Linked DNA regions of Homo sapiens. The protein of the gene in region 4 interacts with the protein of the main gene of each other region in a pairwise test. Each region holds a gene or a part of one and is shown on either strand. Other genes may lie near its edges.

The links.
Region 1: the proteins of TMEM167B (region 4) and SACM1L interact in binary tests that used the Homo sapiens proteins (3 or more experiments, as listed by UniProt).
Region 2: the proteins of TMEM167B (region 4) and SEC22B interact in binary tests that used the Homo sapiens proteins (3 or more experiments, as listed by UniProt).
Region 3: the proteins of TMEM167B (region 4) and AGPAT3 interact in binary tests that used the Homo sapiens proteins (3 or more experiments, as listed by UniProt).

What each region holds. Positions count from the first base shown.
Region 1 is NC_000003.12:45,706,095-45,713,931, reverse strand, and holds part of SACM1L (phosphatidylinositol-3-phosphatase SAC1), read right to left. Parts: intron 7,153-7,837; coding exon 7,025-7,152; intron 4,435-7,024; coding exon 4,285-4,434; intron 796-4,284; coding exon 736-795; intron 1-735.
Region 2 is NC_000001.11:120,166,092-120,173,928, reverse strand, and holds part of SEC22B (vesicle-trafficking protein SEC22b), read left to right. Parts: intron 1-4,979; coding exon 4,980-5,089; intron 5,090-7,837. UniProt on the Homo sapiens protein: SNARE involved in targeting and fusion of ER-derived transport vesicles with the Golgi complex as well as Golgi-derived retrograde transport vesicles with the ER.
Region 3 is NC_000021.9:43,979,824-43,987,660, reverse strand, and holds the end of AGPAT3 (1-acyl-sn-glycerol-3-phosphate acyltransferase gamma), read right to left. Parts: intron 6,673-7,837; coding exon 6,474-6,672; intron 5,358-6,473; coding exon 5,269-5,357; 3' UTR 69-5,268; downstream 1-68. UniProt on the Homo sapiens protein: Converts 1-acyl-sn-glycerol-3-phosphate (lysophosphatidic acid or LPA) into 1,2-diacyl-sn-glycerol-3-phosphate (phosphatidic acid or PA) by incorporating an acyl moiety at the sn-2 position of the glycerol backbone.
Region 4 is NC_000001.11:109,085,787-109,094,065, forward strand, and holds the start of TMEM167B (protein kish-B isoform 1 precursor), read left to right. Parts: upstream 1-4,977; 5' UTR 4,978-5,086; coding exon 5,087-5,096; intron 5,097-5,873; exon of another isoform or gene 5,874-5,962; intron 5,963-7,103; coding exon 7,104-7,235; coding exon of another isoform or gene 7,236-7,296; intron 7,297-8,279. UniProt on the Homo sapiens protein: Involved in the early part of the secretory pathway.

The DNA.
Region 1 (7,837 bases), on a different chromosome or scaffold from region 4:
GGGTAATATAATTTTTAAAAGATTTCTCTAATGTAACATTAAGTATGCATTACAATCATTTGAGCTTGAATATTCACAGATTTTGGAACACTAATAAAGCTACATGAAGTTACAGAATGTTTACCTCCTTTTCAGTCTTTGCCTACAACAACTTCACTCCTCCAGGGAAAAGATATCCCATGCTAATTGTTTGCAGCTCAAACTACTTTTCCAAAAAAAGCATAGCAAATGACAAGAAATAAAGCAATTAGACACATCTATTTACCTAGATTCAATAATATATCATGTTTCCCTAGCTGGGCCTCCCTGTTTATACCTCATATGTGTAGACAAAGGACAGAAGAGGGCGGTGCCTGTGCATGTCTCTCCTGGGTGACTGAAGGGAGTCTCATCCCCAAAGGAAGACAAAAAAGAGCTCTCCCCTTGGCCAGGAAACTTGGCCCTGGCCCCTCATTTCTCCATTATCCATGTACCAAGATCCCCTGTATCTCTCTTAGTTAGACAAAGCAATGTATTTTTATTTAAGGCTTCTATAGAAGATCAGAGTAAAATAGTTAGGCTTCTTCAACCTAGAATGATGTGACAGGGTAGACCTGATCCAAGTTTGTAAGTTATAAACAGTTAAATTAGAATTGTTTCTCGAAATTCTTGGTGATTAGGAAGTCACTTTATAGCATGCATTGAATTAAAGCTTGGACTGTAACAATTAAGCAGATTTTATTTCGTGTACATTACCTCTGGCTGTGCAGAAAGTTCTCTTAGAAGATGACCATTCCATACAAACCGCTGATCTGCCTGAGAGAAGTTTTAAAATTTAATAAAATATCTCCTGCCAAGCTTACTTTCTACAGAAAGAAAACTACACCAATCAATGTCTCTTTCTGATGGCTAGAAGCCAGTTTCTTTGACAGGCCTCAAACAAAATACATCTCCCCCGCAAATCTGTACCTCCTGTGGGCATTTCTGTCTCATTGTCTCAGGCCAGACAGAAACCTGGGAGGAGTTTTACGGTATTTCTTTCCCTTACATTTAATTGTCAAGTACTAAATCTCCTTCAAAATCCATATTTTTTACATTTCTACTCCCACTATCTTTACCAACATCTGACTCCAGCCTAACTAACACACCTTCCCTTGCCTCCAGTTTAGGCATTAGCCCTCGCCACTCATTTTTCCACAATGCTACCAGCAGGAGTTCTCTAACATGTCCTGTCTCCTATCTGCTCAAAATTCTTCAATGACTCTGTCATCTAAAGAACCAAATCTCTGCATGGCCTAATCAGTCCTAGGATCTGGCAGCCCCTAATTAACTCTCTGATCTCATCTCTGGCCACTCCAACTTTCATAAATACAGAAGAGGCTCCCTCAACAATCTATATTTAATCAACTCTACTTAGGGCCAGACGTGGTGGCTCATGCCTATAATCCCAGCACTTTGAGAGGCCAAGGCAGGCGGATCACTTGAGACTTAGGAGTTCGAGACCAGCCTGGCCGACATGTCTCTACTAAAGATGCAAAAATTAGTCAGACGTGGTAGCACGTGTCTGTAGTCCCAGTTACTTGGGGAGGCTAAGGCACAAGAATCACTGGAACCTGGGAGGTGGAGGCTGCAATGAGCCAAGATCGTGCCACTGCACTCCAGGATAGGTGACAGAGCAAGACTCTGTCTCAAAAAAGAAAAAACAAACAAAATAACTGACTCTACTCAGTAGATTAATCAATTCTATTTATGAAGCATACCAACTGAACCACCAGCACCGCCGACTCTAAAAGTCACAGGGAATGGCTTTTGCACTTGACCACAACCAGCTGAATCGCACTTCCTGAGATTCAAGTGTGTGTTCCTGAATTTGTACCAGTCATACTTATTATTATTTCATCATTATATAGTTTAACTATTTTATAAACCAATGAAATAAGATGAAAAACACACTGCTGTTTCTATAAAGTTAAATGATTTGGAATGTAACTTGATAAGAGGCAAGTTGCTAAAACAAAACTGCTGTTGAATTTGGAGTGGGAGTGGCAACTAAAAAAATATAAAAGAACATAGTAAAAATGTACAGGATTCTGCACACAGATTTCTCTGTAAGTGTCAAAGTCTTTAAAGTGGCCCAAATGGGAAAGCCCTATGGATGTAATTTACACAGGGAAGACAATTCAGAATCAAGGAACCAAAAACAAAGAAAATCCTATGGCCGTACATAAAAACATTGACCAATGTAAAACTTTTAGGTTTTAAGTTAAAATATTTAGGGTATATATGTTCCATTTATCACTTTTATGATTCCCTATGTTAACATTAACTTTTTTTTTTTAGACCGTCTTGCTGTTGCCTTGGCTGGAGTGCAGTGGCGTGATGACAGCACACTGTGGCTTCTATCTCAAGTGAACCTCCCACCTCAGCCTCCCGAGTAGCTGGGATTGCAGGTGCGTGCCGCCACACCTGATTAATTTTTAAATTTTTTTGTAGAGCTGTGGTCTCCCTATGTTGCCCAGGCTGGTCCTGAACTCATGGACTCAAGCAATCCTTCTGCCTCGGCCACCTAAAGTGTTGGGATTACAGGCATGAACCACTACACTTGGCTAACTTTCTGTTTAGCTGACAAAACATTCCCATCTCATCCCAACAGATGAGATGGCTTTTTCTGCAGCTTAGCCTCTGCCACCACCTCTGCCTGGAACCCCCCGGCCCACTGTCACCTGACCAACAAATCTTCATCAAGTCTCAGCTCAAAAGTTACCTTTCTGTGTAAAGTTACTGTCCTCTGTAGATACCTTACTTTATAAAGTTGTCCCTGACAACCTCAGGCAAAGACCCTCATTCCTTCAGGATCCCACCTCACTTTGGTACATATCACCATTATAGCAACCATTCTTTGACTACCACTTCCCCAGCAGACTGTAGGCTCCCACAAGACAGGGTCCACAGCTTCATTCTGGGTCCCCAGGGGCTAGTATAGTTCCTGGTACATGGCTGACGTTGTAGAGATGTTTCATAAACAAATGGAGAATGTAGCAACTGCTTTTAAAAGCAAGTCTCTTTGTAGTTAAAAGCCAAGTTTCTTGAATGCTTAGCCTGCACCTAAACTTCCATCTAAGCCTACATACAATTTTACCAAATTAGAGTTGAAAATCTCACCCAAAAAAGCCAGTCAACTAAAATATTAATTTAGGTTGAACCACATGAAATAACCATTTTTATTGGTCAAAAATGGTCAATTACTGGCGACTTCACATTGTCCAACCTAATAAGTAAGATGGAGCGACCTTTTAAATTCTGTCTTCTCATTAAACACTTCTAAGGTGTGTCAAAAAAAAATTCAGGTAGCAATCATCCAGGTTCCTGAACAAAAGAAACTTTAAGTTGAGATCATATGAAACCTAATTTTAAAGATATATTCACTGTATATTAAAAAAAAAAAAAAAAAAGGCAGACTGGGCAGGCACAGTGGCTCACGCCTGTAATCCCAGCACTTTGGGAGGATGAGGTGGGTGGATCACTTGAGGCCAGGAGTTCAAGGCCAGCCTGGGCAACATGGCGAAACCCCATCTCTACTAAAAACTAGCCAAGCGTGTTAGCACACGCCTGTAATTGCAGCTACCTACAAGGCTGAGACATGAGAATTGCTTGAACCCAGGAGGCAGAGGTTGCAGTGAGCTGAGATCGCACCACTGCACTACAGCCTAGGTGACAGAGTGAGACTCTGTCTCAAAGAAAAAAAAAAAAAGCAAAATAAAAAAAACCTTAAAAGGATATTTTCCAAGTTCTAGTGACTTTTGTTACATTTTTAGTTATAAAAATTATAAATAAGCATCACTACAGAAGAAATATCAACTGTTAGAATATGAATTTTATAAGCCTAATTACACTGCTAATGTAACTGCTACACTACCGAACACTGAGAGTTAAGAAATTACAAATGAATGCAATGCTAGTTTGAAGATTTGACATCTGAGAGTTAGCACTTGGTAGCCTGGTAATACTTATGCAGAAATACAAATTCTGAAAGATTTTCCTCTAATAACTTACATGTGTGTTTATACAAAGATTTCTGAATATCTACACCAGTGATTCTCAATTCTGGCTGTATATATACACAGATTCAAGGACTCACACACTGGGATTGTGATGTATATTTAAAACAGGGTATATTTTCAAAGCCTCATACATGATTCTAAGATAGCCAGGACTGAGAAAAATCAATATAAATTTTTATGCATGAAACAGAGACATGTCCCTTTTAAAAACCTAAAAATAAAAATAATTGAAGATCAAGCTTACCCTTTCCAAGAGACTCATTTCTTGGAATTCAGGACTAGTGTTGGATAGCCGCTGCAAAGTATGGGTCAAATCATATGTTGTTGAAAAGTAAAATCCATCCACATTCAAGACATGGTTTAGCATCGCTAGGAAGGTTTTATTATCTTGTAACTATAAACAAAGAAAAATCAGTATAGCTCATAATTGAAAAGGAATCTGCCAGCATGAGAAAAGAATACAAATTAAATCCTGTTAAGTCCAGTCTCATTAAAGACTACTGGCACAAGGACTGAGCCAGTGAGGGGGATGCTCGCCATTTCCCTGGGATGTAGGACAGTTCCTGACACACAGAAGATACTCAATAAACACTGTAGGGTACTATTAGGTAACTTGATTAGGTAGGACTCCTCCCCTTTGTATCCTTTACAAATTTTATTCTCAAAGGCAGAAGAGTAGTTTTAACAAAACATCACCTTCGGTTATGACCTACTGTGTGCCAGGTATTTTCCAAAGATTCCCTTTAATCTTCACAACAGCCCTGCTAAGTTAGCATAGCTATCTTCGACAAATAAAACACATAAATTTACGACGGGCCCAATAATGCAAACAGCAAATAACAAGATACTAACATCATCCACATTCTCAAGAAACGTTCCCTGGTTTGGGATGGACGAGAAGTAAAATGGAATTCTTTTTCTTTAAAACAAAGATTAAAAAGTCCAGTAAAAGCAATATTTATCTTTATTTTTGGGAAACCATTTTAACTAGCTTTCCCAATGAATACTAAGATTGACATTTGTTTTTATCCTTGTTTTAAAAAACAATTGTTAATGTTTGGTAACGTTTAATCATTACTAAATGATTAACTTGTTAATCTACATGTTACAAATCTACATATACAAAATTTTTTATTTGTGCTCAGACATGTTTTTAAAATTAGCTACACAGCTTGACAACAAAGAATAACAATCGAGAAGAAATTGTCTAAGTAAATATGACTGGTCTATTAAATAAATACAGCTGTTTTTATTTCTTTAAAATATGCCTAGTAGAGAATGAAGATATTGATATATATTTCTTGATATATATAATAAAAAAGAAATTCTAAAGTATAAAAAGCATATCCTGTAGTTTTACTCAGGTAGGCAGTGCTATAATTTTATTTTTTAAAATGTTTATCCTAAGTTATATGTTTTAGAATAATATATTTTCTTCTAGAAACATTCTTATAAATTGGGTGTAAAAATACAACTTAAAATTTTTAAATAGCAAACATGTAACTAAAATTACATTAAGAAAACAATCACTCTCAACAGGTATATATATCTCTAAACAATGTTGACTTTAAAAAGTAAGTTTCAAAGAATCAGAACAGGGCAATGCCATTCATGTAAGTTTCATACACACTCCGAGCAAAAACAGATCCTGTTTAAATATGAATACAGGCAGTCTTTACTTTGTAAAGTGGGAATGTAAAAATTACCATGTTATTTTCATCTTAATAATCTTAAGCTATCTTAACAGTCAATTGTAAAAACTATGACTGTTTCATGACCTTTAAAAATTTTTTTTGTCAAAACATTAAAAACTCTATTGTAAGTTATAGATATTAGTTATAGATATTAACTTATATAGTTACGTTGTAGATGTAACTTGTAAGTTATATATAGTAAATTATAAGCATAAATGAACAAATTGTAAAACTAATATTTAGCACACTATAATTTAAAACATTAGAAACACCGAGAATAAAAAATATTTTCTTTGTAAAAAAATTTATCAAGAGACTTGAACAGTGCTTGCCGCCTTCTTGTCATATAGATTAAGATACAGAATATTTCTTCTATCCCTGGTGAACTGTCATACACCTTCCTAAGTCTAAACCAACTTCTGACATTTTATCCTTTGCACTTTCAATGTTGGGAAATATCTCCAAGGTTTCCTTTAATGGGAAGTCTGTTGCAGGCATCACTTTCTCTGGGATACTGTCATCCCTTTCGTCACAGCCACTCCATCATTAATGTCGGTCAGTTCGCCTGCACCAGGACCTCTGGCTGCATACCTACTGTCCCTTGAATGGTGAATAGTGTCAGCATTCCCATGGTCAGCTACTTCTTCTATGCTCCATTTATGTTCAATTTCAATTTCTCTTCCAGAGTTGTTGCTTTTTGTTTTTTTGCACCTTCATCTTTGGTGGGTTAATTCTTCAGTTAATAAACTGGAGTAACTGAAATTTAAGCCATGCTGTTTGGGTACTGGTGTTAACTAAACTATGGTTACTGAAATCTGTGCATACAGGAATAGTGCAAAAGGAAAACTGCCTGAAAGAATATATACACATTTCATAAACACACACACACACTTACATTCACATGTGGTAAAAATAGAGAAAACCTCTCTGGGAAAGAAGGGAATGAGTTAAGAGGAGTAGAACTTCAAAGGTATTTATATTTTATTTCTTTACAAAGAGGATATGAAGTTAAATCTGGTGTTGAGTACCCGTGCATTTCTGTTTTCCCTTCTCTCCATATGAAATTGCATAATTTAAGAACTGAATCTTTAAAAAAAAAAAAACAAGAGCAACAAATGATTTAAAAAATATTTTTTATGCCTAGGTAGAAAAGTAGGTAGAGTGATCTTACTCTATAGGTTGTTAAAATAATTATAGCATTCTTTGTATTCCACAACACCCTCACCCTCCTCTCCCCAGCCCATGCTACTTCTTTGGGCGCTGCAATTAGTAACAATTTCCAGTTCTTACCTGAATATCAGTTAAGTGCAACATTGTCTTCTTATAAGAAAGGACATCAAAATCTGTTGCTTTCCAGACTACATGACTGAAAAATTCACCTACTTTTATCTTTTTGGTAATGACTATAAGATAATTACCTGCAAAAAGCAAGCCAAACACACATAATTATAAAAATAGTAACTCTAAAGGTAGAAATAGGAGTCCTTATTGTTTAACTTTAAAGGCTAGTAGAATGAGACTATATTGTGCCACTCAGATAAAAGGCCCATTTTTAAAGCAACCTTACAATTTATGAATAGAAAGGTCAGCATATTATTTAGAAAAATTCTTACTGAAAGGTCATGTTTTTCTCAAAAAAGATAAAAGCAAAAGCTTTTCATAACCAAAGGATTTGTCTTAGTAAATGGAAAGTAGAGACAGAAAATACTTCTCTTTCTCTCTTTCATCACCCCCAAGGGATACAGACCTCTGCTAATCATTTCCCAGCAGGCAGCTTAAAGCATCAGGACGTGAGATCTGACACTACAGGGCAATGTCCCTTCCACACCACTCCTATGTCCTTCATGTCTCTCTCTAAATGGTAGAGAAATGTGCTGGGGCAGTATACCTAACTGGCTGCTGCAATATTACAAGGATGAGTGGTCAGGAATCAAGGAGTCATCACAACATCATGCACAATACACCAATCCTGACCTTGCCACCTCCTCACCCCAGAAATACATAAAACAGAGTAACCCTTTCCTACTCAATTAATTCTTCAGGTCTGTTCAACATTCTACCCACAAGTTCCCCCTCTGAAAGTTTTGCCATGTACATGTCTCT
Region 2 (7,837 bases), about 11 Mb from region 4:
CTCATGGGGGCAAAATCACCCCAATTGAGACCCAGTGGTTTTTATTAAGTTTTTGTCGACTCAGACAAAAACTTAATAACCACTGTACTTTAGTGCCTAACCACTGTACTTTACTGCCTTGTTCTAAGGCCTTTTAATGATGTCTTACCTCTTAGGAGTCCAGGAATAACTTTTTAATAAACAGATATCTCAACCAAACAGTTTTATATTTAATCACCTTAATTGTCCAGGCCAGATAATTCAATGTATTTTCATTTTTGTATGTTTTTGTTTTCTTATCAGTGTACTTTCAGTATTTACACTGATAATAGATATCATATTTTAGGTATTTACTAGGTGCCTGTACAAGCTGCCATATTACCGAAGATGGACAGTTATTCAGATAATACAATAGAGAGTAAAATTTACAAAATAATGTAGACAGAGTATTTTATACAGGGTGTTTCCTCTGTGTTTAACTGAAAATTTAGACTTAGGGCAGGAAGAGAGATGAGCTTTTCTTCTCAAATGTGGACTCCCTAACTGATACCCTGTTTATCTTTTTTCCTCATTCCTTTTATGGCATGTTTCTCCTTTTAGGATTTTTGCAATTTCTTTATCTACCTTTCTGTTCTGCCTCAAAATTATTGTATTTTCTTTCATTTTCCTCTGGCATCGTGAAGGGCAGTCCAGACTTGAAGAAAGTGTTAGATCTCACCAAATAGGCAGCAGGAAGCTCCAAGAAAGCAGATAGATAACATGTTATACAGTTAAATTGTCTCACGCTCCCAATCACTGAGGGTTGATTAATCCACTTACTGTAACTGCTTTTAGAGGAAAGTGGTTGGTTCTTGGTGCTGCTGGTCTTTGACCAGCTGAGTTCAGTGGGTATTGATACCCACTGAACTCAGCTATGAAAATGATAAAGAGCTATGAAGGCAAAAGTTGTTATTGATACAACTAGTTGTTCAGCAGTCTTAGGTGACAGCAACGAAAAGTATTGTGGTTGTGTGTCTAGTTACTACCTTCTATCTTTTGTAATATATAGATCCAAATCCTACATTTGCTGTTGGATAACCTCAAATTTGTTTCACAGTTTTTCCAGTTATTCTGATCCACTGCATTATTGGATTACTAATAGATATCTCATAATTATATCATATACAAATTTCATTAATCTTTTCTAGATGAAGTAGAAAACACAATGAGGATATCTAAATATTTTTAGGTGGACTGGCTAACTGTGGGCCCTTTGTGACTTTGATCTTGAAAGCAAACTAAAGGTCAGTATGTAAAACAGTGGTTAGGTTGTTTTGTGAGATCTAGATCAGAGCTGCCCCATGGTTTCTTGAGCATTTCCAATGAGTTAGAATTACATAGTAAGACTTCACCTAAAAGGTGGATCTACTATTGAAACAATTTCAATTATAGAGTTAGGGTAGCATAATGCTTAGGAGTAGGGGCTCCAGGGCCAGATTGCCTGCATTCAGATCCTAGTTCCTCCCTTTTTAGCTTAGAGGCTAAAAAGTTTGACTTCTCAAGTAAAAAATTGACATAATAATTCTAATCACCTCATGAAGAATAAACGAGTTAAATAATGTAAAGTGTTCAGAACAGTGGCTGGCAGAAAGTGAACACTTAATAATTTCATTTGATCATTTCTGAAGAATCTTTTCTAATTCCATCTTGCCTTTCTTTTTTTTTTTTTTGAGATGGAGTCTCACTCTGTTGCCCAGGCTAGAGTGCAGTGGTGTGATCTCAGCTTACTGCAACCTCCGGTCCCCAGGTTCAAACGATTCTCCTGCTTCAGCCTCCCGAGTAGCTGGGATTACAGGCACCTGCAACCCTACCCGGCTAATTTTTGTATTTTTAGTTGAGATGGGGTTTCAGCATCTTGGCCAGTCTGATCTTGAACTCCTGACCTCATGATCCACCTGCCTTGGCCTCGCAAAGTACTGGGATTACAGGCGTGAACCCCCATACCCAGCCTCATCTTGCCTTTCTTAAAGGTTCACAGATCAGAATTGCACATAATCGATACACTGGATGCAAATATGTAATGAATGAATGATTTTTCACATTACAAAATTAATTTGTGCATATTGTAGAAAGTTCAGTAAATACATAAAAGCAAAATGACCAAAATGTTAACAGTGTTTATTAACTATAATCTGTACTCAAATTATATCCATTTTGGTGGATGACCTTAAACATATGTATGTGTGTATAACATTAAATAATAGGTAATACCGTAAGACTGTTTCACCTAATTTTTTCCACTTAACAGTGTTTAATGAATATTTTCTCATATCATTAAACTCTATACAGCATTGTTTTAATGGCTGCATAGTATTCCATTGTATGAATATGCCAGAAAGATTATTATTTAACCATGAAGATTGTGCTAGCATTGTGTTCTCGAGGATGGTAATGCTAACTGAACCAGCATGGTAAGGTGTTGGTTGGCATACCATAATCCCTATAAATACATCCCCAGTGTTGTATATTGGCAGTCTTTACATTGCTGTTTGCAAATTCCTGAAATTGCAGAATGCTTTTGGCCAGTTTCTTATAGTTGATACAGTTGTTAGTCTTTTTCTCAGGTTACAGTAATGTTTACAGTGCCTCTTGTAAAGTCAAAGGATTTGTACCAATCTGAGTGGCAATTTTTTCCATGTTTCTTCAACTAGTCCTTTTAAGATTCTCACCTGCCTTTAGCAAAGAACATATATTTAACACCTGTGGTTGCAGTTATGTAAAAAATACCGATATCACAGCCCCACCTCCGAGATGCTGACTTAATTGGTTTGGTGGTGGAGACTGGGCATAAGTAGTTTTGTTTTTGAGATTTCCCCAAATGATTCTATTGTGAAGCCAAGGTTGAAAATCACCGATCTATGTTGATATTATTTCTTGGCACTTGAGCCAAGAAATAATAAAAATATTTCTTTTTTTTATTAAAGAATTTTAAATTAAATTAAATTTAATAAATTAATTTTATTAAATTAAAGAAATTTGCATGCTTTTTATCTACTCTTGTGGGTTCAGATCTCTTCAGAATGGCACTGGGGAAACAAAAAGATTGGTAAGTACCATTCAAATTTAGGAAAATAGAATATTGTGCACTAGTTCTTATTGGCTAAAAGCATATGACAGTATTCACTCTTACTGGCTGGCCATATATTAGTAGTACTGTTTAATATGATAATTTTGATATAATTATTATAAAGTACTGTTTAATATATAAAACTGTACATACATACAGACATACATATGTTAATATAGAACTATTTCTCAAATATATAACAAATATATGTCAATAAAACAAATAATTGCCATAACAGTGGTATTAAACAAGATAAATCTACAAACTAATACCTCAACTGGACTCTGCCTATCTCCCCTGGTTCACCTCATGCTTATTCACCTTCTTATTCTTATTGAAATTTCCAGTTCACCATTTTTACATATAGCTTAGAATCTTATTATCCTGTAATTGTACATTTGCTGATCTGCCACTTTATCATTTTATTGTTGCTTCCTTGTTTTTATTATCAGCTTAGCAGTACACTATCTACAATTTTAAGATATCACTTTGTACTTTATCAAAGTTAGACCTCAGATCCTGGGAGACCCTAGCATAAATACTTTTCTACTTAAATATTTAGTTATTAAACATCTGCCAAAGGGAGGCTATTCTTTCTATGTAAAATAAATAATTCCAAAATAGGATTATTTCTTTGCATCACATGGCAGTGTCCTAGTCTGGTTTACTATACAAAATACCATAAATTGGGTGGCTTATAAATGACAGAAATTGATTTTTCTAGTTCTGCAAGGTGAAGATCAAGCACCAGCAGATTTGGTGACTATTGAGGGCCTATTCCTGGTTCATAGATGTCACCTTCTGGCTGTTTCCTCACATGGTGGATGGAGCAAGCTAGCCCTCTGGGGTCTCTTTTATAAAGGTACTAATCACATTCATGAGGGCTCTACCCTCATGACTTAATCACCTCCCAAAGGTCCCACTTCTTAATACCATCACTTTGGGGGGTTAGGATTTCAACATGAATTTTGTGGGGGATACCAGCAAACATTCAGACTATAGCTGGGTAGCTGGCAGAAAGCTCCCCTACCCCACATGTGGATGGAAAAACAATGTCTATTTGCTTCCCATTCTTCAGGCACTTCCTTTCCCTGTTGGATCTAGTAGATTGGAGATGCATGGTTTTCTTCTTTTGAAATGACACTGCTGGTTTTTCCAGTAGATTTGCCCCCTCTTTTTAACAAAAATAATTGTAAAAGCAGTTAGAAATTGTTCAGGAAAATATTACCTGTAATTATAACATGTGAATGCTATTATTTTCATTTTTGTCTGCATATATCCCTCGATATTCAAACTTTTGCTGTCCAAACTTGGGAACCAAATAGATTTCTTCAGTAAAGGGTATCTGACATCCTAATCTTTGTCTCTACCCTTGGTCATTTTTATGTAATTGCAGTCAAAGTGTTCGTAATAATTTGCAGTCACTAGTACACACATTTAGTTTTGTTTAAATGCTAAAAACTGTAACACTTGTGGAAGGTTCTGCTGGATATTCCAACATAAAAATGAAATTCACCAATCTTGTTCCTAGGATATTCCCCTGAGTATAGCACATGCTGTGTAGTTCTGTGCCAATAACTGCAAATGAAATGGGTTAGGAGGAGAGTACTGTCCTAATAGTGGAAAGAACACTGGATTGAAAGTTAAGAGTGCTTAAGTGTATTTGAGGTATATGCTTTTGCTTCTTAGCAAATAACTAATGCGATCATCTTGAAGAAGTAGGGGTTAGGTCTTCCTCTGTACTCTGAAAGTAGGTTGTCTTTCCTCCGTTAAAATGAATCTTACTTACCTGTAAATGAAGGACCTCATTCAGAGTGTCCTCATAATATGATGCTTCTCACTAATTGATACAGCATTTTGTGGAAAATTCTTAAATGAAGATGTCTTCTTTCAGTCTGGCCGGGACCTTCAACAATATCAGAGTCAGGCTAAGCAACTCTTTCGAAAGTTGAATGAACAGTCCCCTACCAGATGTACCTTGGAAGCAGGAGCCATGACTTTTCAGTGAGTGTAATCTTGATTTCTTTATGATCATTTAAGTGAAATACAGTAACAGAATGCCTGATAAAAAATAATAATTTTTAAAAAGTAAAGATTACTTAAAAATGTTGTCTTTTGGGAGGAGCAACTTCTCTGGCTCTAATTCTACAAAATGGACATCTTGTTGGTTTTTTCAGCATGCTTACAGTAATTTAACCTGTTAACATGTGTCTATGCTGTGCCCATCATGCAATAATAGATAACTTCTTGCTTTAGGACTGTCTTGGAGCCAGATATGTGTAGGTTAGTACCCTTGCTCAAACATTTCCTAACAGTGTAACTTTGAACAGCTCACATAACTTCTCTAAGCCTCAGTTTCCTCTATAAAGTAGTGAAAATAAACATAGGAGGTTTGAGAGGATTGTGAGGGAATCTGTGTGTATTACTTAGCATCTTGTCTGACACACATGGGAAGAGTCAATAATTATTAGTTATTATTATTTTGAAAAAAGAAAATTATAAAAGATAAGAGCATCTTAATCAGTGGTTATAAATGATACAGCTGATAGAGGACTCAAAGGAACATTATTGGATTTTAAATTATCTACAAATAATTGGTATTTAATGTTTAATACATGCCAAGTTTGAAGCTGACAAAATAGGAAGGATTAAAAAGGAAAAGAGTACAAGAGCATCAGAGGAAAATAAAAACGGATTAGTTAAATAATCTTTGCCATTTTAGGGACTTAGATAGTAAGATAACTTAGGCCAGGGAGGAAGCTGCTATGTTTACTTTTAAAAAACAAAACAAAAATTCTCTACCTATAAAAGACAAGTAAAAAGTACATCAAAACAAAAATAAAACCCTAGGCAATTGGCTAAGAAAATGTTGGACATTATGTTTTATGATGTATTAATTTTTATAATATCTGAAATATTTTCTAGAACTCTAATTTTCAACACCAAAAATAGTCACTCACTTAATATCTAGTATCCTCATTTTCACCATGGTTTAGAGAACCAAGACCTAGGAAAGTTCTCATGGAATTGAGAAGAGATTTTCTTCTGCCTGATTCCTTTAGGACATTCATAATCTCATATCATCCTTTATTTCCATCCAAGAGCTATTAAGGGTTTATTCTTTGCCAGACCTTATATTGAGTCCTGCATTTAATGTCCATACCTTTTAACACTGTTCTCTTAGTAGAGAGAGAGACATATACTCAAACAAGTATACTATAATATCTTAATTGAAAAGATGTTGTAAATTAGATTTAAATGAAATGTTTTGGGAACAGAGAGAAGGAAGGAACAAATTCCCATTTGTAGGGGGTAAGTTTGAAGAAACGGGACAGAGGAGGGGAGTATATATAAAGAAGTTTCACAGAAAAAATTATGGTAGAATTGAACATATGAAAATGAACAGGATTTCTCCAGGTATTTAAAAGAGCATTAACGGTTAGAAAAAACAATATAAGCAGAAGTCCACAAATATGTAAAGAACCTAGCATGTTGGAGAACAGTCCGCCATTTGGTTTATTAAAATATATGATAGAATGTTGCTTACACTTGTTTTGAAAGGCTGTAAATATAATACCATGGAGTATGATTTTATTTTGTAGGTATTAGGGAACCCTTAGAGTTTGTAAGCAGGGTAATATGGTCATCTGTAGTCTCTGGGAATAAAACTGATGGTATAGAAGATGGTGTAGACTAAAAGCAAAGAGACCAGTTAACTCAGGTGCCCAAGCAAGGAATAAGACAGCTGTATTATTAATATTATTTTAAGGGGCCTGAGAGATCATATAATAGTCTTTATCCTTTATGGAGCCCTAGGATGCCTCAGGAGCCACATAGAAAGGGCAAGGATGGGAGTATATATAATGCTTTGGGCCCCTAAACTCCTCCTTATGTTTTAAATTTTTCCCTTTTATTTTCAGTTGACATGTAATAATTATACATATTTATGGGATACAGAGTGATATTTCAATACATGTATACAATGTGTAATCAAATCAGAGTAATTAGCATATTCATCACCTCAAACATTTATCATTTCTTTGTGTTGTGAACATTCAAAATCTTGTAGCTTTTTGAAAATACGTGGTAAGTTATAGCTAGCCATATTCACCCTACAGTTCTGCAGAACACCAGAACTCATTCTTCCTATCCAGTTGTAATTTTTTATCCATTAACTTGCCTCTGCCCATCCTCCCCTTCTCTCTACCTTTCCCTACTTCTAATACCCACAATTCTACTCTCTACTTCCATGAGCTCAAAAATTTTTTTTGGCTCCTACATATGAATGAGAACATGCCATATTTATCTTTCTGTGCATGACTGATTTTATTTAACTTAATGTCCTCCAGATTTATCCATGTTGCTGCTAATGATAGAAATTCATTCTTTTTTATGGCTGAATAGTATTCCATGGTGTGTGTGTGTGTGTGTGTGTGTGTGTGTGTGTAAAAAACACTTTTAAAATCCATTATTCTCTTGATGGACATTTCTCTTGATTATCTATCCATAGATATTATGAATGGTGCTGCCGTAAACATGGGGGTACAGATAAGTTTTTAACATAATGAGTTTTTTTCCTTTGGAGAAATACCCAGCAGTGGGATTGCTAGATTGTATGGTAGTTCTGTTTTTAGTTTTTTGAGAAACCTCCATACTGTTTTCTATAGTGTATAAAAGTTCTCTTTTCTCTTCATCCTCAACAGCATTTATTGACTTTTGTCTTTTTAATAGACATTTTAACTGGGGTGAAAT
Region 3 (7,837 bases), on a different chromosome or scaffold from region 4:
CATGTGGACACCCAGACTCTTCAGCTTAGCTTATTTTTAGAAGACACGAAACGAGAACTCGGAATATCTTTTGGTTCTAACAAGAGTTTTTGTTTTGCTTTTTAATAAAGAAGAGAAAGGGGTTCCTTGGTTTTCTCCACAGATGAATGTTTTTACAAAAAAAGAGTAGTTTTGGATGTATACATGCCACTTAGGAAAACCTTTTGTCCTTGATCGCTTTTAAAACCCTTTTTTGGACATCATCAGGTCATTTTGCGTATTTTTGTGGACTGGCTGATTTCCCCTGTGTTTTTGCCAGGTGACCGCTCTCCTTTTCAATTTCCCCTCCCAGAAAGCAACTCGTAGGGAAGGGAGGGCCTTGAAAAGTGCCATCGGCAGGATGGCCTCCAAGGAAACAGAGCCCGTGGGAGTGGGCTCTGAAGGTGGGTGGCCCCATGGGACAGGAGTGCCTGGTGGCCCTGGTTTCCCCTTGGAGACATCTATGCAGACTGGAAACGAAGAAACAGAAGGAGGCACGGAGTCGCTTTCTCTTATATTGTGGATATTTTATCCCTGTCTTTCACAGCAGCAATTTTAATAAACAGATGCCTGCAGCATTTCACCACTACACAAGAGCTACTCGCGCTCGGGCAGGCGCACACCTGCCTGTGTACACAGGTCCTCGCACAGCACGGCAAACGCAGCCAGGCCTTTGGGACACAGGCCTCTGAAGTGTAAGTTAGCAGCCCTCACCCCGACAAGCTTCTAAAGACCAAAAATACCTCTATCCTCCACTACATAAAGCTTGTGAGTAGCAAAACTTGTAAAAATGAAGTGTACAAAAGGAAACATCCGTATAATACATTTGCACCCTGTATACAATGGGTCCCTTTGAAACTGGCCAACAGTCAGCGATGGCAGATTTTCAATCATAGAAAAAGAAGCCAGTGGCTGTCATGCGCACTCAGGTCAATGGTTTGTGTGGGTTCTCCAGAGAGAGAGATTTTCCTTTACAGTTACAGTACTTGCTGGCGATCTTGCTGATTAAAAGGCCAGTTGAATTTCCTGGCATTTAGGCAAGTAACATTTGATTGTCACAACGTACAATTCTGAGACAATAAATACAAGTAGATCAGATGCATTTCTTCATTGTATCAAGTAACTCCAGTTTAATGTAATACAATTTAGTGCATTTCAGTATCTCATTCACAGTTCGACTTCTGTCCAAATACTTGTGCAACAAAAAGTTAAGAAATGGAGACGAACTCCAGGTGACATTGTCATTACACAGCTTCAAATTCTAAGACAACTCAATGATCTTTGAAAAGCGTACGCTGCTGTTGCCTGGGCCGGCGACACCAATGTCCCTGGTAACTTCCTGGGCTCCCTAAAAGTGTTCCCGTCATTCTATTTCCCGAGCAGTTTGTAAGAATGCCACCATTATCCCTGAATTAACAAGCAGCCAGTGGCGAGTGTTCATGATAAAACTGAATTCATGTGTCCACCCCACTCCAGCAGATCAGTGTGACATCTTTTACGCAAAAATTGTTTTTGCATCCTGGCCCCGATAGGCAGGAATACGGAGCCGGATGTCTGCATCCCCCAGGTCGGCCCCACGGCAGGGGTATGGGGCAGAGCCAGGGCGGAGTCAGGGGTGTGGCCGGCCCCATCCCCCGAGGCCCGAGGGGGCTTGCCTTTGGTTTGGGGACTAGCTCAGTAGAGAAAGGGGCAGGCACACGGCCGGGGACGTGCTGTTTCCAGAAAGAAGGCAGGCAGGCTTTTCGGGCTGGCCGTTTGAACCCTGAGCCTAGGTGCAGTGCAAGGGCTAGAAGCACATCGCGCCGTGGAGCACTAGTATTGCACGCCAGGGGCTGCATGCAGTGAGCCACAGGCCAGAGGCCTGCAGCGGGAGTCTACGCATGGGGCTGAACAAGTCAGGTGAAAATCTGCAGGGCTGGAGAGATTATACTTGGCTTGTTGTAGAAGTGTCTCAGGTAGAGACAAAGCATGCAGAAACTTACTCATTCTTCACCCCAAATCTGACCCCAACCGGTAGTCACAACAGGCATGGACAGCCTGGCAACAGCTACTCAATTGCACGTGAGTGAAACACACAGCTGGGTCCAACCACGGCTTTTCCTTCAAATCAACATCAATGCTCAGCAATACCGCAACGAACAGCGTGAGGAAAGATTCTCATGCCACGGTGCGCGAAAGGGAGTCGGGACAGGCAAGGCAGAGAGACTCAAAATTCATCGACAGGACGTGCTTTTTTTTTTTTTTTACACAAGAAAGTGCTGCTTACATTGTTGTTTTGTGTTATTTAGTGATTTGTTCAGCGCTCATCTCTTCCACCAGACTGCGCTTCCTGAGGACAGGGACCTTAAAGCACCTCACATAGGGTGCGCGTCTGGTACACTGTCGCCGAGTACCAGACAACCAGTGTCTCACACGGGGGAAGACGATGAAGACAGCAATGGCATCCTTGGGAAGATGGGCAGGAGACCCCATGACACCTGGCACCTGGGCCTAAGCTGGGAGGCCAGCGGCGTCCCCAGGAGACCACGGCCCAGGCTGGGAGCTTGACCGGCCAGACGCCCGTGGGTGGGCCTGGGCCCTCCCGCCTGGGAGCCTCCAGTGTGGCGCCTGGCTCTGGGTGGGTAACAGGAGCTACAGGCCAGCAATGCCCTTCCTGTCCTCGGCCTGGCTCAAGGACTGGGTGCAGAGGGCATCAGCGATGCCAGGCCTAGAATGTGCCTCACCCCGACAGTGGCCAGCACGGACTGTGGGCTACAGAGTTGCTTCAGCCTGAGCACTCAGCCTGAATTTGGACATAACATCAACTGAATTAAGCTCAGAAGTAGGGTGTAAAGGAAAAAGAAAAAAAAAAGACTGTTCTGGGATTTATGAATTTAATTTAAAAAATGTAAAGGAGCTCTCCTCCCCTTTTCCTTCTGGATGAAAAGCAAAATCCACCCTCCCCCCCCCAAAAAAAAAAAATTCAAACATTCATGGTGTAGTTTTTATTGCTCTTAAAGACTTGGTGTTGAGAAGCACAAGCTAAGCTGTGAGATGGGAAGGAAACCAGATGAGGTGTGACCCCTGCGCCTGGGCCTCCGTCTCCACTCTAACCTAGGGGCTGCCCAGCTCCGCCATGGCTCAGTGCAGAATTTATACATTATATATTAATTTCAAAGGGAGGGAACTTCTATGGGAAACAATAATAATTAAATCATAAAAGATCTAAATTTGCATTTTCCAGGTCACATATGTGCATGGTCGTACCCTTCAGCTTTTTTCCTTAAAGATTTTGCAGGTGTTAGTGAGTCAGTGAATGGCATGGATCTAAACACACATGGAGACGGATGAGCAGCGTGCGGCATGAGGAAGGTGCAGGAGAATCTCTGGGGTGCTCAGCCAGGGGAGCGCATGCCCTGCCCACGGCACAGCTGCCCGAGTGGGCGGGTGGAGGGATGAGATTTCAGATGGAGGGAAGCACATTTCCAAAACAACAGTGTCTGCAAGCGTGTCTCGCATGGTGTCGTTGGTCTCATCTGGTTTCGTTGGTCTGCCCCTTCACCCCTGCGAGGAGCCGTGCTCTGAGCAGGTGTGCACAGGTGGCGTCCCGCACACGCCCTGAGAGCACGGCCCCCACAGACCCGGGGCCCGGCAGCGCCTCCATCATGCAGAACGCTGCCGTCCCCTCCAATCTCCCCAGGACACTTAGGCCCGATGCCTAATTATGTTCTCGGTTTACTTTTCTTCATGCCTCTTTTCTCCATTTGTTTTCCCCTAGAAAACTCAACCTACCTCTATTCAGAACGCTGGTTTCAAGATATCAGAGATAACACCCATTTTGGTTTTTTTACCTTGCTAAAAAGATGAGGGCGCTGTGACTTAGAACAAGCAAGTCGAAAGCCAAATGCAGGTGGGCTGATGGTACCGCAACCAAGTTGAGCGTTCTACCACTGCCATTGCCCCAGGGGCCCCACCTGGCCATGCCGGGGGAGTGGACATGCTGTAGGGAGAAGCATCCCTCGCTCGGCGTGGGCCAGGGGCTCGCTGCAAGGCCAAGGGAGCCAGCATGACCGGCCGAGCGCTGCCCTCTGCTCTGCCTGGACTCTCAGAGACGTCCAGGAGGTAGGGAGCTGGGCGCTCAGGGGTGGCCGGGCCACAGTGACACCGGCCAGGATGGGGGCGGGCCTTCCCCAAGGACACAGTGCGAGGCTGGGGGGTGGGGGGTGCCCCACCTCTAGTTTCCAGCAGGAAGTTGAAAACCACCAAGAGATCAACCAGTAAAAATAAAATCTCTAGAAGTCAATGAGCTCAGTGTTAACAGTCTCCAACCACCTTTAAAAAACAGAGGGTTGACGGTGCCGTCGCTTCTTCTGAAGCATCCTAGAGTCCCACAGGCTGCCCTGTTCTCCCTCCTTGGCTCCTGATCTGTGGGATGGGGGGGCGCGCGGTAGCCCCGAGGGTCCTCCCTCCCCAGCACCCAGTGTGGAGGGACCAGGATCTGACAGCCATGAGAGCGACAAAGGAGCTTTAGGTGCATGGAGAACTCTGCATTTCACTGAGTTCTCAGGGGCCCATCCACTTTAAAAACAGATGTACGTATTTACACACAAGGTCAGATAGGAGCTAGGACAGACAGGGCTCTAGAAAGTGAGGTGGGGCGTTCGCCCTCAGCCAGCCCCAGGACAGGGCAGAGTGAGGGCTCCGACTTCGAGGAATGGACCTGACGTTCGTGCCGGTGTGCTTATCACTACGGGCGCCCTCCACGGGGCCCCCACTGGGAGCCAAGGTGCTGAGCCGAGCGATGCTCCCGGGGGACGGGACCCGGCCGTCCACTCCCAGGAGGACAGCAGAAATTCATTACGAGACAGTTTCGGGGGCGGGGGGTGCAGAAGAGGTGAGGGGCCAGGTTAAGTTCCCAAGATAACTGATTAAAAACCAAAAAATTTGATCTAAGTTTAAGGAGAGAAAGCAGCCAAAGGCTCCCTCTTGGAAGCGGAGTTCTGGAGAGACGGCGTCCGCGGGAGGCCTCTCCGGCCGGACCCACCTCCCACGGGCGCGCGTGGAGATGCTGGGACCCTGCGCTGTGGGAGGCTGAAGACTTCACCTGACAGGCCTTCTGAATTCTTTACTCTTGGCTCAAGTTTTGTTAATATTAGTCACCAGTTAATAAGAAAAATAGTTTCTAATTGTCTTTTCCTGCACTCTGTGTGTTGGTTTTGAGTTAACTGGATACCACCGTCAGGGCCGCGTGTGTTCAGTCACAGCCATTAATTATTCCTTTTTCTTAAACTCTTGGTTTCCGTAGCTGGAGCCTTTTTCTATCTCAGTTACTCCTATCAGTCTGCGAACTCCAAAGGAAGCTTTCAAGACAGGAGAGAGAGAGAAGAGGTGAGACGGATGACTTTGCCTTTTTGCTGTAAAACGTGTTACTGGGGCTTCCTTCCTCTGCCCCAGACCCTGTCCCTCTGCCCCGCACCCAGTGGCCTCTGCTGTCAGTGAGTAGGTGTGGCCCGCGGGGAGACAGCCCTCTCAGACCGTGGTCTGCTCAGGCAGGGGTGAGGGGCACGTCTTCTGACCGGCTGGGTCCGAGGCAGGTGGACACGTGGACCTTGCCCTGCCTGCCCCTCTGGGTCTTTGGCTGGTGGGAGCAGAAGGGCTTCGGGGCATTCTAACAGCTCGGCCTTGCAAACCCAACAGGTGACAGAGGTGGACGAGCAGGACCCTCGGATGTAAGCAGGTCACATCCTGTCCTCTGTGGGTGGCCTCAAGTCATCTCGTAGTCCAATGGGAGAGGCTGGTGGCAGTCACTGCCTCTCAGGACCCCTCCCACCAAGGCCCCTGGCAGGGGCGGCAGGAGCAGGGGAGGAGCTGGCCCAGCTGCTGGGCCTGGGGAGTCGGCTCACGGGGCGATGCACACGGACTGTGTCTCCACGGACAGAGACCCCTCAATTACGGGGTGTGGGTGGGCGCCGGAGCTCACCACAGGGACAGGCTGGGTGTCTGTTCGGCCCCAGGCTAGCTGATGAGTCGTGGTGGGCCTGGCATTGTGCCTGGGGTGGGCACACAGTGGGGAAGTCACTGGGGGTCAATGGGGAGGAGCTGAATGATGATGTCCTGCTTAAACCTCCCGAATGGCCAGCCCAGCCTGACCCCTAAGAGCCCAAAAGCAGACAGGGGGGCTGGGGACCCTCTCGGGGACCCTCTCGTCGGCATCCTCAAGGGCGCCAGCCAGTGGGGCTGCAGTGGGGATGGCGCCAGGTGGCGGCCGTTCGGCTCTCTGGGGAGGCGACCCTCAGCTCAGTGCAAGAATCCAGGCTCTGAGGCCCGCAGGCCGTGGGGGGATCCTGGCTCCAGGGTCCATAACAGCCAGGCCCCTGCCTCCCACAGCCACTGTGATGAGTCACCAGGTCCCGGACCCTGTGGCTGATACTGTGAGGCCCGTCAGAGTGTGAGCTGTTAGCGACAGTGTCCATTACCTGCTCCCACAAACCCCAAGAAAGTCAGGATCAGGAGAGGTGATCCGCTGGCAAAGACGCCCAAGACAAAACTGAAGAGGGGAGACAGGAGAATGGTGGCCCAGGACAGGAAGTTCAGGAGGGTCCACGGCCTCCGGGCAGGCTTAAACTGCTCCCCTGGAAACATGCCCTTCTGATTATATATCTCCTGGAGCGCGTCCTAGAAGAGTCAACAGAGAAAAAGGAAGCGTGAGGCTTCTTTACAAGCTATTATTTCAATGCAGGAGAAGATTGTTGGCAATGAAAAACGACTCAACCTAAAAAAAGCGCCACGTCAATTAAGAGCACAAATCACAGAAGCTGCAGGTGCAGGCGAAGCTGGCTGTACGTTTTTGGAGAATCTGATAGCGTGCATCGAGAGCTCGCAAGCATATCAACCCTTTGACTGAGGAAGTCTCCCAGGAAAATAATCGGTCAAGAAAGCAACGTTGTGAATACCAACACCTGCCTGCCCAGCACTGCCCCGGCCACCCGCCACATCCCACACCTCCCACGAGCCAGAGGCAGTGGGGGTGGCAGGTGTGGCCTGTGTGAGTCCCGCGGCCTGGATGCAAATCCCTGCAAAGCGCACTCTCAGCTGCACGGCCCAAGGAAAGTTCCTTAACCTCGCATACCTCGGTTTCCTAGCCTGGCAAAGGAGGCTAATGAGGAGCTGGGAGGAGAGAGGAGCCTGGCCAGGGCCACCTGCAGAAGGTTCTGCCTCTGGTGGGAATGTCAAAGGCACAGGCTGGCAGGAAATCACCATGCCTGATAGAGCAGACACTCCGCAGCCACTGCCCGTGGGCGGGGCAGCCCGTGGGACTCTAGGATGCTTGGGAAGTAGTGAAGGGCACCATCAACTCTCTCGTTTTTTTTTGTTTTTTTTTTTTTTTTGAGATGGAGTCTCACTCTGTCGCCCAGGCTGGAGTGCAGTGGTACGATCTCGGCTCACTGCAACCTCTGTCTCCCGGGTTTAAGCGATTCTCCTGCCTCAGCCTCCTGAGTAGCTGGGATTACAGGTGCCCACTACTGCGCTAATTTTTGTATTTTTAGTGGAGACAGGGTTTCACCATGTTGGCCAGGCTTGTCTCGAACTCCTGATCTCGTGATCCACCCACTTCGGCCTCCCAAAGTGCTGGGATTACAGATGTGAGCCACCACACCTGGCCGACCCGCTCTCTTTTAAAGATGGTTGGAGACTGTTATCACTGAGCTCACTGGCTTCAAGATATTTTTTCTAGTTGATCTCTTTGATCTCTTCATGGTTCTCAGCTTCCTGCTGGAAACTGGGGTTGGGGTGCCCCCTGCCAGCCACACACTGTGTCCGTGCAAAGGCAGGTGTCATC
Region 4 (8,279 bases):
TAGTAGAGACGGGGTTTCACCATGTTGGCCAGGATGATCTCAATCTCTTGACGTGATCTGCCTGCCTCGGCCTCCCAAAGTGCTGGGATTACAGGCATGAGCCACCGCACCTGGTCAACTTTTTGATTTTAGAATATAAAAGTCTTGATACAACTAATTTTGAAATAGCCTGGTGAGACTCACTCTATTCAATTAAAAAAATGTAAAATATCTTTTACAATATGAAAAAGAAAAAATATGGTGGAGGGAGAAAGAAGAAATAAATTTAAGAGTGGGAGAAAAAAAGTAGGAAGAATAGAGACAGACGTGGAAAATGAAGAAAAAGTAAATTTTGAGTGGAGTTAAAAGAAAACTGTTTAATCATAAGATACTGTGTGCATTATCACTGCCCTTTAGAAATAGTAATTTGAGGCCGGGCACGGTGGCTCATGCCTGTAATCCCAGCACTTTGGAGCCCGAGGCAGGTGGATCATGAGGTCAGGAGATCAAGACCATCCTGGTCAACACGGTGAAACCCCGTCTCTACTAAAAATACAAAAAATTAGCCGGGCGTGGTGGCGGGCGCCTGTAGTCCCAGCTACTTCGGAGGCTGAGGCAGGAGAATGGCGGGAACCTGGGAGGCGGAGCTTGCAGTGGGCCGAGATGGCGCCACTGTACTCCAGCCTGGGCGACAGAGCGAGACTCTGTCTCAAAGCTAAAATAAAATAAAATAAAAATTGGAATTTGCCACTGGGTGTGGTGGCTCACGCCTGTAATCCCAGCACTTTGGAAGGCCGAGGCGGGCGGATCACGAGGTCAGGAGTTCAAGACCAGCCTGGCCAACGTAGTGAAACCCCATCTCTACTAAAAATACAAAACTTAGCCGGACACGATGGCGCATGCCTGTAGTTCCAGCTACTCCGGAGGAGAGGCAGAAGAATTGCTTGAACCCAGGAAGCAGAGGTTGCAGTGAGCAGTGATTGCACCACTGCACTCCAGCTTGGGCAACAGAGTGAGACTTTGTCTCAAAAAAAAAAAATTGTAATTTGCCAATTCATCACTCCTCCTGGTTTTTCAGCTTTGATTTCATCCTTAATTTTTTTTTTCTGTTTATGAGACACAGTCTTGCTCTGTCTCCCAGGCTGGAGTGCAGTGGCGTGATCTCAGCTTAATGCAACCTCTGCCTCCCCGGTTCAAGTGATTATCCTGCCTCAGCATCCCGAGTAGCTGGGATTACAGACAGACACCACCACACCCAGCTAATTGTTGTATTTTTAGTAAAGACAGGGTTTCACGATGTTGCCAGGCTGGTCTCCAACTCCTGACCCCAAGTGATCCACCTGTCTCGGTCTCCCAAAGTGCTGGGATTACAGGTGTGAGCCACCATGCCCAGCCTTTACATTTTATTCTTTTTTTTTTTTTTTTTGAGAGGGAGTCTCACTCTGTTGTCCAGGCTGGAGTACAGTGGCACAATCTCGGCTCACTGCAACCTTCGCCTCCCAGTCTGAAGCGATTCTCCCTCCTGCCTTAGCCACCTGAGTAGCTGGGATTGGAGGCTCACGCCCCCATGCCCGGCTAATTTTTGTGTTTTTAGTTTTGTGTTTTTAGACAAGGTTTCACCATGTTGGCCAGGCTGGTCTTGAACTCCTGACCTCAGGTGATCTGCCCACCTTGGCCTCCCAAAGTGCTGGGATTACAGGCGTGAGTCATTGCGCCCGGGCTTAACTTTTTTTTTTTTTTTTTTTTTTTTTTTTTTTTGTGGTGGAGTCTCACTCTGTTGCCCAGGCTGGAGTGCAATGGCACAATCTCGGCTCACTGCAATATCCGTCTCCCAGGTTCAAGTGATTCTTTCGCCTCAGCTTCCTGAGTAGCTGGGATTACAGGCACCTGCCACCACTCCCGGCTAATTTTTTTGAATTTTTAGTAGACACGGGGTTTCACCATGCTGGCCAGGCTGGTCTCGAACTCCCGACCTCAGGTGATCCTCCCGCCTCGGCCTCCCAAAGTGTTGAGATTACAGGCGTGAGCCCCTGCGCCCAGCTGATTAACTTTTATTCTAACCTCTGAGAATGACAGAAGAGGAAAGACTTGTCTTTCAGAGTATGACAAAAACTGAAGAGGTTTTCATCTAGTTAAAAAAAAATGGGGAGAAAAAATTATCTCTAAAAAGTGAGTGGCATGAGCAAAAATGAGAAAGCAAAGACTGTAACTGAAGAACATAGTCTTTATAGACAAAGCTTAAAGCCCATATAGGGAACAGTGGAAAATACTATTGGAAGGCCTTGAGTAGCAGGCTAAGGACTTAGGCATTATTCAGTAGGTAGTGGTTGCTGTCAAAGGAAACACCAGTGTGGTATGGAGGAAAATTTTCTAGTCCTGATTTCAGAAGGCTGGAATTATTGTGCCAGTGTAATACTTGGCAGTCCTTACCCTAAACCTTGGTTTATTTCTAAAACAGGGGTAATCAGGCAGTTGTGAGGGTTAAATAAGATCATATGACAAGGTGTGTTTGCTTTGAAAATGTCAAAATGTTATAAAAATGTAAGTTTTCATTGTTGTGAGGACATAATTGATACTTAAAGACTACCGATATAGCAAAATTACTAAGGTGATGGCTGTAGGATTACAAGAGGGGCAATTTTTTTTCTTTTCTTTGTTTTTTTTGAGACGTAGTTTCACTGTTGCCCAGGCTAGCGTGCTATGGCAGGATCTCAGCTCACCGCAACCTCTGCCTCCCCAGTTCAAGCGATTCTCCTGCCTCAGCCTCCCAAGTAGCTGGGATTACAGGCATGTGCCACCATGCCCGGCTACTTTTGTATTTTTAGTAGAGACGGGGTTTCTCCATGTTGGTCAGGCTGGTCTCGAACTCCCGACCTCAGGTGATCCGCCCACCTCGGCCTCCCAAAGTGCTGGAATTACAGGCGTGAGCAACCGCGCCCGGCCAAAGGGGGGCAGTTATTATTATTATTATTATTATTTGAAATGGAGTCTCGCTCTGTCGCCCAGGCTGGAGGGCAGTGGTGCTGTCTCGGCTCACTGCAACCTCTCCCTCCCGGGTTCAAGCTATTCTCCTGCCTCTGCCTTCCGAGTAGCTGGGATTACAGGCGCACGCCACCATGCCAGGCTAATTTCTGTATTTCTTTTTTTCTTTTTTCTTTTTTTTTTTTTAAGTAGAGACGGGGTTTCACCATGTGGTCAGGGTGGTCTTGAACTCCTGACCTCAGGTAATCCGCCTGCCTCGGCCTCCCAAAGTGCTGGGATTACAGGCGTGAGCCGCGCCCGGCCAGCTGCTGCTGTTTTAGACAATGGTTGATGAAGGATTCGAAGGCCTAAACAATAGAGCTTTTGTTCTGTTTTGTTTTTGAGTGGTCCTGAACAGTTCTTTTGGGCAGGGGAATTTGTCTGTGTGTGAATGTGCAAACATATATATAATCTGAGTGGCTGCCTGGCCTTGTCCTAGGTTTTGTCCCGTATATACGCCGTCTTTTTTTTTTTTTCTTTCTGCATGTATGTATATTTTCTCAAGGCATCTGTCCTGCACTAGACTTTGGCTTGTCTTTCCAGGCCAGCTTCCAGAGGATGCTTTGGCAGTTTTCCCTCTGGGTAACCAAGCAGGCTGCAGCCAGCAGATGGCACTGCAGCAGAAAGGGGCAGAGTCCCTTTAGGCCCTTGACAAGCACGGCGGATTAGTAACCGTATAATTTAACCCTCCAGTTAGCCTTGGAGGACTCGGTGTCGCACTTCCGCCCGAACTCTAATAAAGCGGGCCGAGTTGTGTGCAATTAAGGATTTCAGTATGCAAATCTGAATCTGTACTTTTGTCTCCTCCACCCCACCCCCATCATTAGACTGGCAATGTCTTTTGTCACGTTGTCAAAGTGTCCTCAGAGAAGCGGTGTCTAGATATCGCCGATTTCTGGTTAAAGTGGCTGAAGTGATCCCAGCATTAATTAAATGCAGGAGAATCGAGATTCTCCTGATAGTTTAAGGAAAAGAAAAATTCACACAAGCAAACGGGCAACCCTTTGAATGTTTTCCGACGACGTGGTGCTTTAGGATCTGAAAGATGCGACTTGGTTTTTGTTGTTGTTGTTGTTGTTGTTGTTGTTTTTGAGACGGAGTTTCCGCTCTTGTTGCCCAGGCTGGAGTGCAATGGCGCGATCTCGGCTCACCGCAACCTCCGCCTCCCAGGTTCAAGCGATTCTCCTGCCTCGGCCTCCCGAGTAGCTGGGATTACATTACAGGCATGAGCCACCATGCCCGGCTAATTTTGTATTTGTAGTAGAGACGGGGTTTCTCCATGTTGGTCAGGCTGGTCTCGAACTACGATCTCAGGTGATCCGCCTGCCTCGGCCTCCTAAAGTGCTTAGATTACAGGCATGAGCCACCGCGCCCGGCTAATTTTGTATGTTTAGTAGAGACGGGGTTTCTCCTTGTTGGTCAGGCTGGTCTCGAACTCCGACCTCAGGTGATCCGCCTGGCTCGGCCTCCCAAAGTGCTGGGATTACAGGCGTGAACCACCGCGCCCGGCCGCGACTTGTTTTTGTTACAAGGTTCCTCATTTCATTTGCAACGTTCAGACGCAGTCTGACTAGATTTCCATCCGGAGTAAGGAAGAGCAGCTCAAGGGCAGTCACGGAGGCCGCAGGTGCGGCTTCTTCACCCGCGGTGCTGGAGTTCTCTCAAGTGGAAGCCCAGGACGATGAAAACCTCATAGGTAGGCTGCTGCTTACACACAGCAGCCGCCACGGCGCAAAATAAACTACAAAACTACAAGCCTTTACCTTTTCAAACACACTGACGCGGGCCAGCCCCAGCCCTACGCCCGCAGGGGCACGCAGAAAAGACTTAGTTACCACGGCCAAGTACGAAGCCTTCGAGATAGCGTTCTTCTTACCCTACGTAAACACGCAGTTTCCCGAGCTCGACAATCGGCTAGCCACTCCTGATAGCGTTCGGCGCTCGCCTCTCGGCCCTTGCTCCTGCGTACTACGGCTTCTTCCAGTCACCTCGGCCCGGATCGGGAAGTGTCAAGCGGGCGCTCCCCCATCTCCGCCGCTATTACCACTGAACCCGGACCCCCTACCCAGGTCCAGGGCCAGCCGCCATGACGAACGGTGAGAACTGATGCCCTGAGCGGAGGGTGGGAGTGAAGGACGAAGGGAAAACGTGGCGGGCGGGGCCGGGACTGACGTGGCCGTTCTCCCCGCCCCCTCCCAGCCCGGCCCCCCTTGGCCTCTCGACGCCCCTAACTTCTGTACCCCTATACTCCTCTACGGGTTCCCCCTTCCCATATTCATCTAGGACCCCCAGTGCCTCTTATGCTCACACCTCGAGTTATCTATCCCTATGCTTTGCTTTCCCTTTTCTTTTTCTTAGTTCTTTCTGGCCCTTGGAGAGGTCAGTCCCAGAGGTACTACTGCTATTTAAACCCGGGGAAGAGAGAGGCTCCTCCTCCCAGCTCCCTGCGTTCTCATGCTTTCGGACCGTAGTTTTGTTGAGAGGGCCAATAAATGACATAGAATATCAAGTCCCACACTTTTGGGGTTGCTGGTGAATGTAGACCCCACAAAAGCTTCTTCTTACGGAAAAATACCGGAAAGATTTCTGATTTTAAAGTCCTGGCGGGGTGATCCCACGTGGAGACCCTGACTAGTGTTGCAAAGGGTGGATTTAGACACTGCCTCTTCTAGATGATGAGGCAGTTTATCTGACCTAATTTTCCAGGCCTCTTCAAACACTTTATGAATTCTGAATTCCAGAGGAGGACAGGAAGGAGGGCCTTCATGATTTTTAGTGTCAACCTTACAGGAAAGGAGAAGAGAAAGCCTTTTAGGCATTACGATGATTTGAGGGGCTCCGGAAAGCATTTCTCAAAAGTACTTTGTCCATAGACCTGGCACTGAAGACTCGAATTTAACCTCCTTGTGAATTTTGGCATTGTCTGCAGAAACTTATGAGAGAAAAGGGGTAGCACGTGAAGGTATAGTTCCTCAGAAAACCTTAGTGTATGTATTAATTTGCTGGACCCTTTCTTAGTGACAGCTTAGCTGTGAGACAGTTTTACTGGAGGAAGAGAGGTAGTGTGATCTAGAACTGGCAGACACTGGTTATATATAATATTCATTTGGAGCTTCCTGGGAAGTCAGAGGTCTCAGGATACTAGGCACAGTAAGAAAAGGGAATTTACCCAGAGGAAGACAGAATCTGAACCAGGAAGTAAGACAGCAGTTTGACACGGTAGTTGCTGAATAAATTTTAGTCATTCTTCCCCCATTTTGTGGTCCAATATCTTCTTGTTTTTTGCAATTAGGTGATTCATTGTGCTTCCCTGTACAAGAAATAAGCTTGGTTTATGTATTTAAGAAACAGAGCTAAGAAGTTAAAGCTTTCTATGTTGAAGCCTTAGATACTTTTTCTTTGTTTTAGAAAAATCTGTTATTATTCTGGCAGAAATTCGGTTTGTTAAGAGTATCATCCATAAAGTGTAAGATAATGATAGGAAAATTGTAGTCATGTGGATTCTTACTCTTGCAACTTTCATTAAGCTTAATTTTTTGCCTTAACATATTCTTCACCAACAGTTGCACATCTGACAGTTTTGGCTACATATCTAGCTCTCCTTTATCATATGAGTGATTTATAACAAGAACATGTTAAATTCTCTGTGCTGAGTCTCTAAGGATTCATATGTCTCAATCTATTGCCAACACTAGTCATTCCTGGGATGCTAATTTCTGCCCAGGATTTCTACTTCTTGAAAGGTGAGGGGAAGGACCAGTGACATTTTAGTAAAGGGGATGTAAAAAAAAAAATTTTTTTTTGAGTTGGGGTCTCACTCTGTTGCTCAGGCTACAGTGCAGTGGCATGATCGTAGTTCATTGCAGCCTCGAACTCCTGGGCTCAATTGATCCCCCTTCCTCCTACAAGCAATTTTTGGGAACAGTAAAATAATCGTGTTAGTCCCAGGATCCTGGCTCCCCCTTGTCAAGTGTCAGTACTGCCTGTTGAGGTTATTATTTTGTTATTATGTCACACACTATCTTCCTTAGAGTTCTCAGGCGGGATCACAGGTCCGACGCTAGATCAGTACCTAAGGTTTTCTTTTCTTCTTTATTTAACAGTGTACTCCTTGGATGGGATTCTGGTGTTTGGTTTGCTCTTTGTTTGCACCTGTGCCTACTTCAAGAAAGTACCTCGTCTCAAAACCTGGCTGCTATCAGAGAAGAAGGGTGTTTGGGGTGTGTTTTACAAAGGTGAGGCCATGTCTGGACAGGGAGAAGAGACTGCCATCTCTGGACAGTGTGGAGCTACAAAGTAGGGAGTACAGTGAGCTGGGATTATATTTGGTTTCATTTTTAGAAAAAAATCCCTCCGATTGGGTCTGAGAGTCTGGAAAATTAATCATTCTCCAAAGTTGAGGGAAGAGGTAAAAGTTAAAATTTGCTGGGTGTGATGGCTCATGCCTATAATCTCAGCACTTTGGGGGGCCAAGGCAGGAGGATTGCTTGTGTCCAGGAGTTGTAGATCAGCCCGGGCAACACAGTGAGACCCCATTTCTACAAAATATACAAAAATTAGCCAGGTATGGTGGCACGTGCCTGTAGTCCCAGTTACTCAGGAGACTGAGGTGGGAGGATTGCTTGAGCCTAGGAGGTTGAGGCTGCAGTGAGCCATGGTGGAGCCACTGCACTCCAGCCCAGGTGACAGGGTGAGACCCTGTCTCAAAAAAAAAAAAAATTATTTAAAAACATAATTGTCTATTTTAGCATCCAGATGATTTTTGTATTCTCCATGGAGTAAAAGTATACACATCAAATCATTTTAGGCTGGGGTGGAATTCCTCCCTTCAGTGGGAAAAAAATTTTTCTACGGAAAATTTTTCTTGATTTTCTGTAAATGGTACATTGGAGTCTGTTTTAAGGTTTGAGTTAATTAACTCAGATGCTTTTTTGTACTTTTTATTTGAGGCACATTCATTTGGAATCCTATCTACCTAAATTTTTTTTTGAAAAAGGACAAAATATAAACAAACAGTATATTCACCTAGACCCTAAAGCATAAGGATAGCATTTAGAAACATCTCAGAGGCCGGATGCGGTGGCTCATGCCTGTAATCCCAACACTTTGGGAGGCCGAGGAGGGCAGATCACCCAAGGTCAGGAGTTCGAGACCAGCCTGGCCAACATGGTGAAACCCTGTCTCTACTAAAAATACAAAAATTAGCCAGGGAGCCGGGCACGGTGGCTCACGCCTGTAATTCCAGCACTTTAGGAGGCCAAGGTGGGTGGATCACCTGA